Linked DNA regions of Homo sapiens: region 1 is linked to region 2. The links come from fine-mapping of genetic effects on gene expression. A gene starts in region 2. The other region holds a variant in brackets. All regions are shown on one strand. Distances are from middle to middle. Region 1 overlaps GPR139 (G protein-coupled receptor 139). Region 2 holds the start of THUMPD1 (THUMP domain 1 NAT10 acetyltransferase adaptor).

Region 1 (5,379 bases), 690 kb before region 2:
ACTACTGTGAAATATTTAGTACTTAATCCTTACTAGTAAAGTAGGTGCTATTTTCATCCCCTTACAGATAAAAAAGATTCAGGCTTGAAAGGGTTAGGAAGTTGACTAAAGTTGTATGCAATGGTATCAAATGCCTCTTCCAGCTTTCCCACTCTCCAACACCTGAGCAAGGCTGGTACATTTAACAATAACAGTTCCCTTTATTGAGCACTGACTGTATTTGGCTCACTTGCCAGAGGTTTCACTTGCACTATTTTTTTTTTTTTTTTTTTTTTTTAGACTGAGTCTTGCTCTGTCGCTCAGGCTGGAGAGCAGTGGTGCAATCGCGGCTCGCTGCAACCTCTGCCTCCCAGGGTCAAGCAATTCTCCTGCCTCAGCCTCCCGAGATGCTGGGATTACAGGCATCTGCCACCACGCTCAGCTAATTTTTATATTTTTAGTAGAGACAGGGTTTCACCATGTTGGCCAGGCTGCTCTCGAACTCCTGACCTCAGGTGATCCACCAGCCTCGGCCTCCCAAAGTGCTGGGATGACAGGTGTGAGAGATTGCGCCTGGCCACTTGCACTGAATTTTATCCTCATACGACATCATGAGATAGCTACTATTAATATCCTTATTTTAAAGACAGGAACACTGAGGTTCAGTGAGGTTAAGGAATTTGCCCAGATCAGACAGAAAGTATGTGCAAGACCCAGGATTCAAAAACAATTTGTTAGACTCTAGAGTGCATTTGATGCACTTACTTGTCCAGATACCTCCATAATCAGCTCAGGGAACTGACCATTAAATAGAAATGGGCCAGTTGTTTTCTTTTGTAACATATTATTATTAGTTTTAAACAGTGTCCATCAGCTGGCACCTATGAGGCATGAGGGAAGTTGAGAGAAGGATCAATTTCAGAGCAGTCATATGGCCTTTGAGAATGCTCGCCACTCCCAGCCCCTGGGAATCAGTGGGGATAAGGAGATCTGGGGAGCTAATCACCTCCTTGAAATCCAGGGCATACAACTGAGCTCCTGCCCATTGCCCCTTTTCAATAGCGAATGATGCTCCCCACTGGCTGATTCTCCATTGTTTTTGCCCCACGTGCTCAGCTTCTGCCAGTCCTGCCCATCTACTGATTTCCGGCTAGCGACTGCCTTGGCCAGGGGATACTTATTTGTTTTTGCTGTTTTGTGGACACAGGGGTGAAGGTTATTGGGTGCGAGGGGACCAACAGGAAATCAGAGGCTTCTGTGCTCTTCATCTGGAGTTCGCTGGGGTGTCAGAGGCTAATTGAGGCTCTGCCTTGGTTGTCGCTGTTTGATTAAACATCTTGTGCCAAGCATCATCCATCTGCTTCTCCCAATGGCTGCCAGGGGTAGGTATTTTTAGCTGTGGGCAAATAGCTTATCAATTGTGCATACAAAATGCAGCCAACACAAAGCCATCATTTTCCATTACCCTGCCTCATTCTCCTATGAAGACAAGGACAAAGGAAGAATTAAATAAGATGGGCATTCTCTTATTCATTCAACAAATGTTTACTGAGCTGCTCACTGTGAATCAGGCACTGTTCCAGACACAGAGATGCAGTGATAGACAAACACACAAGTGGTTTGCATCCACAGGGAGCTTACAGTCCATTCTGACTCAGTAGAATTCTGCTCTGCCGCCAACTAGCTCTGTGGCTTGGGTAAGTTTCTCATCTCTCTGAGACTTCTTTTATTCCCATAGCATGTGCTGAGCGTGTATTATGTGCCATTTTCTGTGCTGGGGCTGCAGGTGAGGGATGGCAGATCTATTTCACCCTCTAGTCAGGGAGGCAGACAGGGAAAGAGGCTACATGACCAAGTGGTAAGTGTAAGCCAGGAGGCCGAGACATTTTCTTGGGCACTTGGAGAGGAAGCAGCAATGAGTTCTGGGTTCTGAGTTTGTGGCGAGGGAAGGCTTCAGAGAAACATGCAGGGGGAGATTGAGGAGAACGGCACTCGAGGATCTGGGAATGGTAGGGACTGTGAGTAACACAGTGAAGAAACAGAAGCATTAAAACAAAGAAAAAAATGGCCAGGCTCAGTGGCTCACACCTACAATCCCAGCACTTTGGGAGGCTGAAGTGGGAGAATTTCTTGAGGCCAGGAGTTTGAGACCAGTCTGGGCAACATAGTGAGACCCCATATCTCTATAAAA[A/G]GTTAAAAAATCTGCTGAGTGTGGTGGTGCAAGCCTGTATTCTCAGCTACTTGGGAGGCTGAAGCAGGAGGATCACTTTAGCTCAGGAGTTAGAGGCCGCAGTGAGCTATGTTCATGCAAAACAAAAATAAAAACAAAACAAACTTTAGTCAGTGACTCAAGCTGTCTTTCTAGTCTTAAAACTTCTCTTCTTAGGGATTTTTTTTTTGTTTTTTTTGAGGTGGAGTCTCGCTTTTTCGCCCAGGCTGGAGTGCAGTGGCACCATCTCAGCTCACTGCAGGCTCCGTCTCCCAGGTTCAAGCAATTCTCCTGCCTCAGCCTCCCAAGTAGCTGGGATTACAAGCACCCACCACCATGCCTGGCTAAATTTTGTATTTTTAATAGAGATAGGGTTTCACTATGTTGGCCAGGCTGGTCTCGAACTCCTGACCTGGGAGGCCTGACCTGGCCTCCCAAAGTGCTGAGATTACAGGCGTGAGCCACTGTGCCCAGCCCTTAGGGATCATTTTTAAGGGACAGCTGACCTGCGTGTCCTGCAGCTAAGGCCATGTATAAACTGCAACCAGTAACTATTGACTTTGCATCCTCTAGCTCCTTCCTCATATTAGGTTTGCATCCAGTGTTTCCAATTTAAAAGAAGAAAAAACAATAACACGTGACATCGGGGGGAAAATGAACTAGTCTATATCAAGGTTCCAGAACATGTTTTATGGTTCATTTACATACCCAGGGTTCCATGGCAGCAGGTGTCATGAAAGCTGACCACAATTTTAATGATCACCACTTTAAGGATTTAGAAGGCATGTCCTAGCGTCATCTTAGAAAGACAGGTGGCAGAGTACAAATTCTGGAGCCAGATTGCTGGGTTTCAAATTGCCCCTGCAGCCTTCTAGCTGTGTGACCTTGAGCAATTTACTTAACCTCTCTGGGCCTTCAGTTTGCTCATCTATGAAAAGTATGCTGATATAGCACCTATCACAGGTTTTCATGAGGATTAAATAAATTAATACAGGGAAAGTGCCCGGTGCTAGGCATGCTATACACTTTTTATCATCTTTACTATTAGACAGGGTAAAAGTTTGGAAGGGCAGGAAGTGTGCCTGCTTTGCTGATTATTATTAATATATTGCCAAGCTCTTACATAGTTCCTGGCATACAGTAGGTTCTCAATAAATACCTGTTGAATGAATAAATGAATGAATAACTATGAATATAGATTAACTTAACATTGCAGAGAAGCAAAAGGCTGGTTAACAGTTTTGAATGTACTTAGGGTTTACTGCAGAAAATGAATCAGGTGATGTAATCCAGGGTAATTGGAAATTAATTTGGTGTTCAGTGTGTGGGAGAGATCTTTTTGGGACCATTAGCTGCCTGAGAAGAGGGTTTGTGCCAGAATCTTCCACATAAATCCAATTCAGTTCAACATAAATTTAGTGATGCCCAACCATGTACCAGAGCCTGGGTCAGGCTCCCAGAGTACAAGATCTGTTCCTTAGGCTCAAGGTGCTGAGAACTTGCTAAATAGATCATCCCAAGGCAGCATGAGGCATCATTTCAAAATCCCTGTTCCTTTCAATGGCACCGCGTTAGATTTTGCAAACTCAAATGATGACAGGGCCTGGGCAGGAAATATAAATGTGTGGGCATGCCATGTGGGCACTTCCGGTGAGCAGGATATCGCATGCCCCATTGCAGGAGGGTGGTCACCATTTAGCTCCACTTGGTAGTTTCCCATGAGAGAATGACAGCCAACTGTGGTCAGGTCTTCCAGTGTTTCAGGAGAGGCTTGCAAGCAACACAGTTACACACCCCATCCCAATACACAGGGTGGTCCATGGGTTGCAGGTTTGAGACCTCTGCTTTACCAGCCAACATCCAAAATCTTTGCACAACCCACAAGGTACCTCCCGCACCATCAGCTCCCTTCTGCAACCCCTGCAAATGCACCTTGCCACTTTATTTTAGGAGCCATTGCCTGAACGTGCAACACACTTTCCTACCTCCATAGCATTGCATGGGCTATTTCTTCTGCCTGAAATACCTTCCCCACCCACAATCCTTTGCCTAGAAGACTTTAGTTTTAAAGCCTTCTCTGATCTCAATGCATTGAGTTAAGCACCTCACTGGCCAGAGTATTTAACACATTTTTATGATGCTATTCTTCAAGATCTTTATCACCCATTCACTGGGAGCCCCTGGAAAGCAGGGACTGTATCTCTTTACTCTAAACCTTGAGGACTTATCACAGGGCTGTCAAAGAGTATGCACTCCATCAATGTTTGTGGGATGAAAGAGTGATGGATGGATGGATGAACGGATGGATAGATGGATGGATGGACTCCCCAAGGCTCTCTCTGTGTGACATCCATCTGTTTGCTGTCATTTTCATGGTGTTCCCTTATATGTGTGATGACTGTTCACACCCCTTTCCTCTGCTTTTTTCTCTCTAAATCCAGTGTCTATGTAGCTTCTTGGGCACTCCTTTCTGTTACCTTCTATAATAGCTATTGAATCAAATTCCCCACTTACTGACTTGGGCGTAACACTTAAGTCAGTTTTCTCATCTGTGCAATGGGGACATCTTTCCAAAGCGCTGTTAAGAAGACTGAGTAATTTAATGTGCGAAATCATCTGTACCATGCTTGGCATGGAGTAGATGCTCAGAAATAGAATTCATTTCCCTATTGAATGTGATTGACAGTTTCACTCTTAGAACACTTTTCCCTTGTTGAAATGAGGAAAGATTAAGAGCTCCGAGAGTGAAACCAGACTTCATGGGGTTGAATTCCAGGTTTGCTGATTCCTAGTCTTGTGACTGTGGCTAGGTTACTTAAACACTCCATGCCTCAATGTTCTTTATCTGTAAAGTGGGGATGGTAATGCCTATCTCATATGATTCTTGTGGGAATTAAATACATTAACACAAATAAAGTGCTTAGAAGAGCACCTGGCACATGGTGATGCTCAAATGTTATTTTGGTTGTTCACCAACCCAACCTAAGTGAGGAGCATTTTGCCTTATTCATCAAGCCCACTCAGGCCAGCTTCCTTCGCTTTCTTTCCATTGCAAATAGTGACTCCCTAATGTGTTCAGGCACCTTGCCACAGGTTGCAGATGTCAGTAAACCTGAAGAACCAGTTTCTGCCCTCCTGGAGGCTCTAGCCTGGCAGAGAAGCCAGATAGATACTCAGAGAGAAGCTCCATG
Region 2 (5,379 bases):
AGTGGTGGCTCATGCCCATAATCCCAGCACTCTGGGAGGCAGAGGCAAGCAGATCACCTGAGGTCAGAAGTTCGAGACCAGCCTAGCCAACATGGTGAAACCTTGTCTCTACTAAAAATACAAAAATTAGCCCGATGTGGTGGCAGACGCCTGTAATCCCAGCTACTCAGGAGGCTGAGGCAGGAGAATCGCTTGAACCCAGAAGGCAGATATTGCAGTGAGCTGAGATTGCACCACTGCACTCCAGCCTGGGTGACAGAGCAAGACTCTGTCTCAAAAAAATTAAAAAAAAAAAAAAAATGTGGAGGAAGAGGGAATTCCCGCAGACTATAGAATGTAAAATTTGAAAATGTTTTCAAAAGCATCCTGACAGTTTGAGGCAGAGAGAAACGTGCTGACCAGATCAATCATTTTAGGGTGGACCTTAACACGTTGACCAGGTATCTGTGTGCCTCACACGACACTGTCCTTTTGGTGAGATTAGACCAAATACCTGTGGAATTAAAAACCCTTACTCTTGTTCTATTAAGGAACAAGGCACAGAAATACATTGTTCAATAATTTTGGCCAAGCATGGTGGCTCATGCCTGTAATCCCAGTACTTTAGGGGGCAGAGGTGGGCGGATCCCTTGAGCCTAGGAATTTGACACCAGCCTGGACAACATGGCCTGAGAACCCGTCTCTACAAAAAATACAAAAAATTAGTCGGGCATGGTGGCACATGCCTGCAGTCCCTGCTACTCGGGGACTGAGGCAGGAGGACTGCTTCAGCCCCGGAGGTGGAAGTTGCAGTGAGCAAGAGCATGCCACTGTACTCCAACCTCCACCTTGGGTGACAGAGCAAGACCGCTTCCAAAAAAAGAATTTGCTTAAAGTACAGGAGTAGACAGGATATGTGCTTGTTGCCCAGCTCTCTGCCCCCTAGTGCCCAACGAAATTGCCAGTCAGGCACAATAATAATTGTATACATTTACAGAAACTTTATTACATACCAGTATGTATTTTATGTACATAAGCAACTCACTAGCCAGTCTTAAAGTATTCTCTTTTTTATCTAGCTCAGCAGCATCAAATAATGTGCCCATGTCCGAGTCCCCAAGCTAGTAGAGGATGAGCCGTGAATTTAAATTCCCTCTGTATTACCCTTCTTCATTTAATCCCTCAGTGTGCGTGTGTGTATTGGTCCAGATTCTAAGCCAGTAATATGATTTCCAAACACTAAGACTTTAGGTGATATTGGTAAAAGTTTTTACGTTCTAAAATGTATTTTAAGTGCAGTAACTAGCATTAGTAGTAAACCTATTATTTCAGAAATATTATTGCTTCAGGTAAACACATTATTACTCCAACTTCACGAGGCTGTCATGAAAAATGTGTTTCTGAAAGAGCTTCAGCACACCGCCTGGCCCTCAATGAGCAATCCTTAAGTGGGAGGTAGGCCGGGCTCAGTGGCTCGCGCCTGTAATCTCAGCACCTTGAGAGGCAGAGACGGGAGGATCGCTTGAGTGTAGGGTTTAGGACTACCCTGGGCCAAACAGTGAGACCCCTTATCTACAATTTACAAAACTTAGCCGAGAGTGGTGGCGCGCACTCATAGTCCCAGCTACTCTGGAGGCTGAGACAGGAGAAGTCGAGGCTTCCCTGAGCTATCATCACGCCACTGCACTCCAGCCTCGGCAACAGAGCGAGACCCTGTCTCACAAAAATAAAAATAAAAGTAATGGGAGCTACCGTGGTTACTGATGGCAAGAAAAGGTGCAAGCACTTCAAGCACAAAACCGATAGCACCGAAGTCTGCGAGCGTCTCAGGACTAGGGACGGAAACGCCGGCGAGGCCACGCCCCTACAGCCGTCACGCCGACGACCCGAGGCGCGCATGCCCATACCAGCAGCCATCCCTCCACCCTTCCCTCCTCCCGCAAGGCCTGGCAGCCGGCCCGCCCGCCCACCCCGGGACCGGTACCTTTTCTGGCCCATACATGTCGTCGCCGTATTCGTTGAGGAGGCTGTAGGCCTCCTCCACGCACTTGCGCTCGTTCATATTGCAGGTGATGAGGATGCCCTGTAGCCCGGGCTCTAGCTGACGGGGCCCGCCAGCGTCGCAGCGCCGAGCGCGCTTGGCCAGCACATACTGAGCCTTGCCTTTGCGCTTCCCGCCGCCAGGCTGAGTAGTCTGCTGGGCAGGGGCCGCCATGGTGTGCGCAAACTGAGAGGAAAGAGAAACGTTTCTCCGCTGCTGTTGGCGTCCTCGTCTATCGCCGGCGCGAACTGGTGACGTCGGATATGAGCGACGGCCTCCCCTAGCCGGCCTCGAAGCCTCATTCCGTGCTGCGCCAGGTCCTAAGGCCGGTCTGCAATCGTGAAAGGGGTGGAGTGATACCCGCCCAAGCCCCGCCTCCTGCCCCGCCTCCCGACTGCAACCTGAATCCAGTAGAGGCAGCATAGCAGCCATTCTGGAAGTGGTGTCGGTGGCTCCTCAAGCCCTTGAAGCTGGCTCCAGCCATATAGCTTCTTCCACCCAACCTTGGTACCTGTTCCTCCAGCCTTCCCTATAATTCTGCCAGCTACTGTGGAGGAAAAGTTAAATATTAAATTTGAACTCAATTGAACGTGGACACAATGGTCAAGTCCCGTAACAGGTTGCATGAGCCCCTTGAGGCATTCATTCATCCAGCACTGTTACAGATAACTCTGTACCTGTACTTGAGTTATTGAAAAACAGACAATCACAGAAACAAGTTGACCTTTATGTGTTCCTTGAGCCCAGTCGAGAAGGGCCCTCGTGACTGGGCCTCATGCCAATCAACGCATTACAAAAAGAGCCAGGGTCGGCCGGGCACGGTGGCTCACGCCTGTAATCCCAGCACTTTGGGAGGCCAAGGCAGGCAGATCACGAGGTCAGGAGATGGAGACCATCCTGACCAACATCTCTACTAAAATGCAAAAAATTAGCCAGGCGTGGTGGCGCGCACCTGTAGTCCCAACTACTCGGGAGGCTGAGGCAGGGGAATCACTCGAACTCGGGAAGCGGCGGTTGCAGTAAGCCGAGATCGTGCCATTGCACTCCAGCCTGGCAACAAAGCGAGGCTCTGTCTCAAAAAAAAAAAAAAAATGAGCCAGGGTCCCAGGCCACACGGAAGCTTCTTGAGACCCCTCCTCCTCTGTGCACGGACAAGTGGCTGACTCTGGAGCCCAGGCTGTTGCTTCCCGGTCTGGTGATGAATCCAACATAGTCTGGTGCGTGTAAATATATATATATATATATATATTTTTTTTTTTTCCCTTCTCCCCTTCCCATTGCAATTTGCTTACTATATCATTTGCTTATTATATCTGCATTGCCATTTACGTGGGATAAAGGTTGTTTACCCCCAAAGGTATTGTATGTTTGTCTATTTTTTTTTTTTTTTTTTGAGATGGAGTCTCGCTCTGTCGCCCAGGCTGGAGTGCAGTGGTGCGATCTGGGCTCACTGCAAGCTCCGCCTCCCAGGTTCACCCCATTCTCCTGCCTCCCTCCCGAGTAGCTGGGACTACAGGCGCCCGCCACCACGCCCGGCTAATATTTTTTATTTTTAGTAGAGACGGGGTTTTACCGTGTCAGTCAGGATGGTCTCAATCTCCTGACCTCGTGATCCACCCGCCTCGGCCTCCCAAAGTGCTGAGATTACAGGCGTGAGCCACCGCGCCTGGCCGTATTTTGTCTTGTTTTTTCCCCTCGCGCATTTCCCACATAGAACAGTTACTCAAAAGGCTTCCAGTAAATTCCATTTCAGCCTCAATTTTCCAGGCTATGTTTCTATTTCACTTAAAACCAAGGATGTTGGCTGGTGTTGTTTCATGCTGCTTTCGTTGCGGCCTTTTATCCATAGTCTTGGCAACTTATCATGTTACTGTCTTTTTAAAAATCATTGAAGATGCCACTTTTGAAGAATGTGTTTAAAAAACAAGTGCTTCTCATACTACTCTTCAGGTACAAACCTCTTAGCAGATTTGAGTTCCTACAAAGCCCTAAAAGATGTAATCTGATATTTTGAAAGGGACACCGAATTCACAGTCAATAAACCCTAGGTTCTAACCCCAGATCTACCACTATGTCCAAAAATTTTATCATCTTATTGTTTGCTTTTACCTGTGTATTCAATACAGCATTTAATTTTCAGAATTTCTTTGGTGGACACTGCACAGCAGAGATTTCTAGAAGTCCTCAGTTGTTTGTGAAGAGCAGTGTCATGACACTGGCATTGGCCTTCCCCCAAATCTCTCTCTCTTCTGCTGGCTGGGTTTCAGTTGCCCACACTCTGCCACCTGTCCTTAGGATATCAAATATTAGCATACAGATAACAAGTTAAAATATATATATTTCAAGTCCCAAGCATATTTGAGTACTATATGGAGGCAAACTTGAAAAACAAAAACTCAGTTTTGTTAAAATATGTGAGGAGGCAGCTTTAGGCTAAATTTAAGTTTGGCCTAAATCAAGCTTGTCCAACCTGTTGGCCCACAGTCAACATGTGGCCCAGGACAGCTTTGAAATTCAACCGGCCCAACACAAATTAATAAACTTTCTTAAAACACTCTGAGGTTTTTCTGCAATTAAAAAAAATTCATCTGCTATTGTTAGCATTAGTATATTTTATGGGTGGCCCAAGAGGATTCTTCTTCCAAGGAAGCCAAAAGATTGGACATCCCTGGCCTACAGGTTTCTCCATACATAGTGAACTATAACCTAATTGGATGTGTAAACAGACTGTAATGGCTGTTGTAACAAGTAGCCAAATCTCAGCCAAGCACAGAAGCCATGCTCAACCACTCACAGGTGGCTGATTGTTCAAACCATGTTTTTTATTTTTATGTTTTTTGAGACGGAGTCTTGCTGTCGCACAGGATGGAGTGCACTGGTGCAGTCTCGGCTCACTGCAACGTCCACTTACTGGGTTCAAGCGATTCTCCTGCCTCAGCCTCCCAAGTAGCTGGGATTACCTGTGCATGCCACCACGGCCAACTAATTTTTGTATTTTTAGTAGATATGGGGTTTCACCATGTTGGCCAGGCTGATCTTGAACTCCTGACCTCAAGAGATCTGCCCACTTCGCCTCCCAAAGTGCTGGGATTACAGGCATGAGCCACTGCGCCCAGCCAAACCACGTTTAAATAAGGCAAATACTGAGTTGTAACCTATTGGGCTGTTTCTGTACCTTACTTCCATTTCCTGCACCTCACTTTTCTTTTTATGTCCATAAATCATCTCTGACCATGTGGCAGCACCAGGATGTCTCTAAACCTATTCCGGTTAGTGGGTCAGGGGCCTGCCTGATTTGAGAATCCTTCCTTGTGCAATTTAATTCTGTTAAATTTAATTTGTCTAAAGTTTTTTAACAG

What was found. PIP is the estimated chance that this variant, and not a neighbour inherited with it, causes the effect. A credible set is the group of variants that fine-mapping cannot tell apart.
Region 1: its variant is the best candidate, but not a certain one, in a credible set for the expression of THUMPD1 in unexposed skin (GTEx, PIP 0.85).

Annotation. Positions count from the first base shown.
Region 1 is chr16:20,044,742-20,050,120 of GRCh38, forward strand. All of the region lies in intron 1 of GPR139 (G protein-coupled receptor 139), which reads right to left. Among named protein-coding and RNA genes, the nearest start is that of GPR139, 26 kb to the right of the region's middle. The variant A/G (reference allele first, on the strand shown) is at 2,171.
Region 2 is chr16:20,739,546-20,744,924 of GRCh38, forward strand. THUMPD1 (THUMP domain 1 NAT10 acetyltransferase adaptor) reads right to left here and starts at 2,273. Exons shown (of 4, transcript NM_017736.5): 1 at 1,964-2,273. The coding sequence starts at 2,194. It also overlaps a transcript of ACSM3 not described here. RefSeq lists enhancers at 1,459-1,548, 1,579-1,718, 2,019-2,068, 2,079-2,348.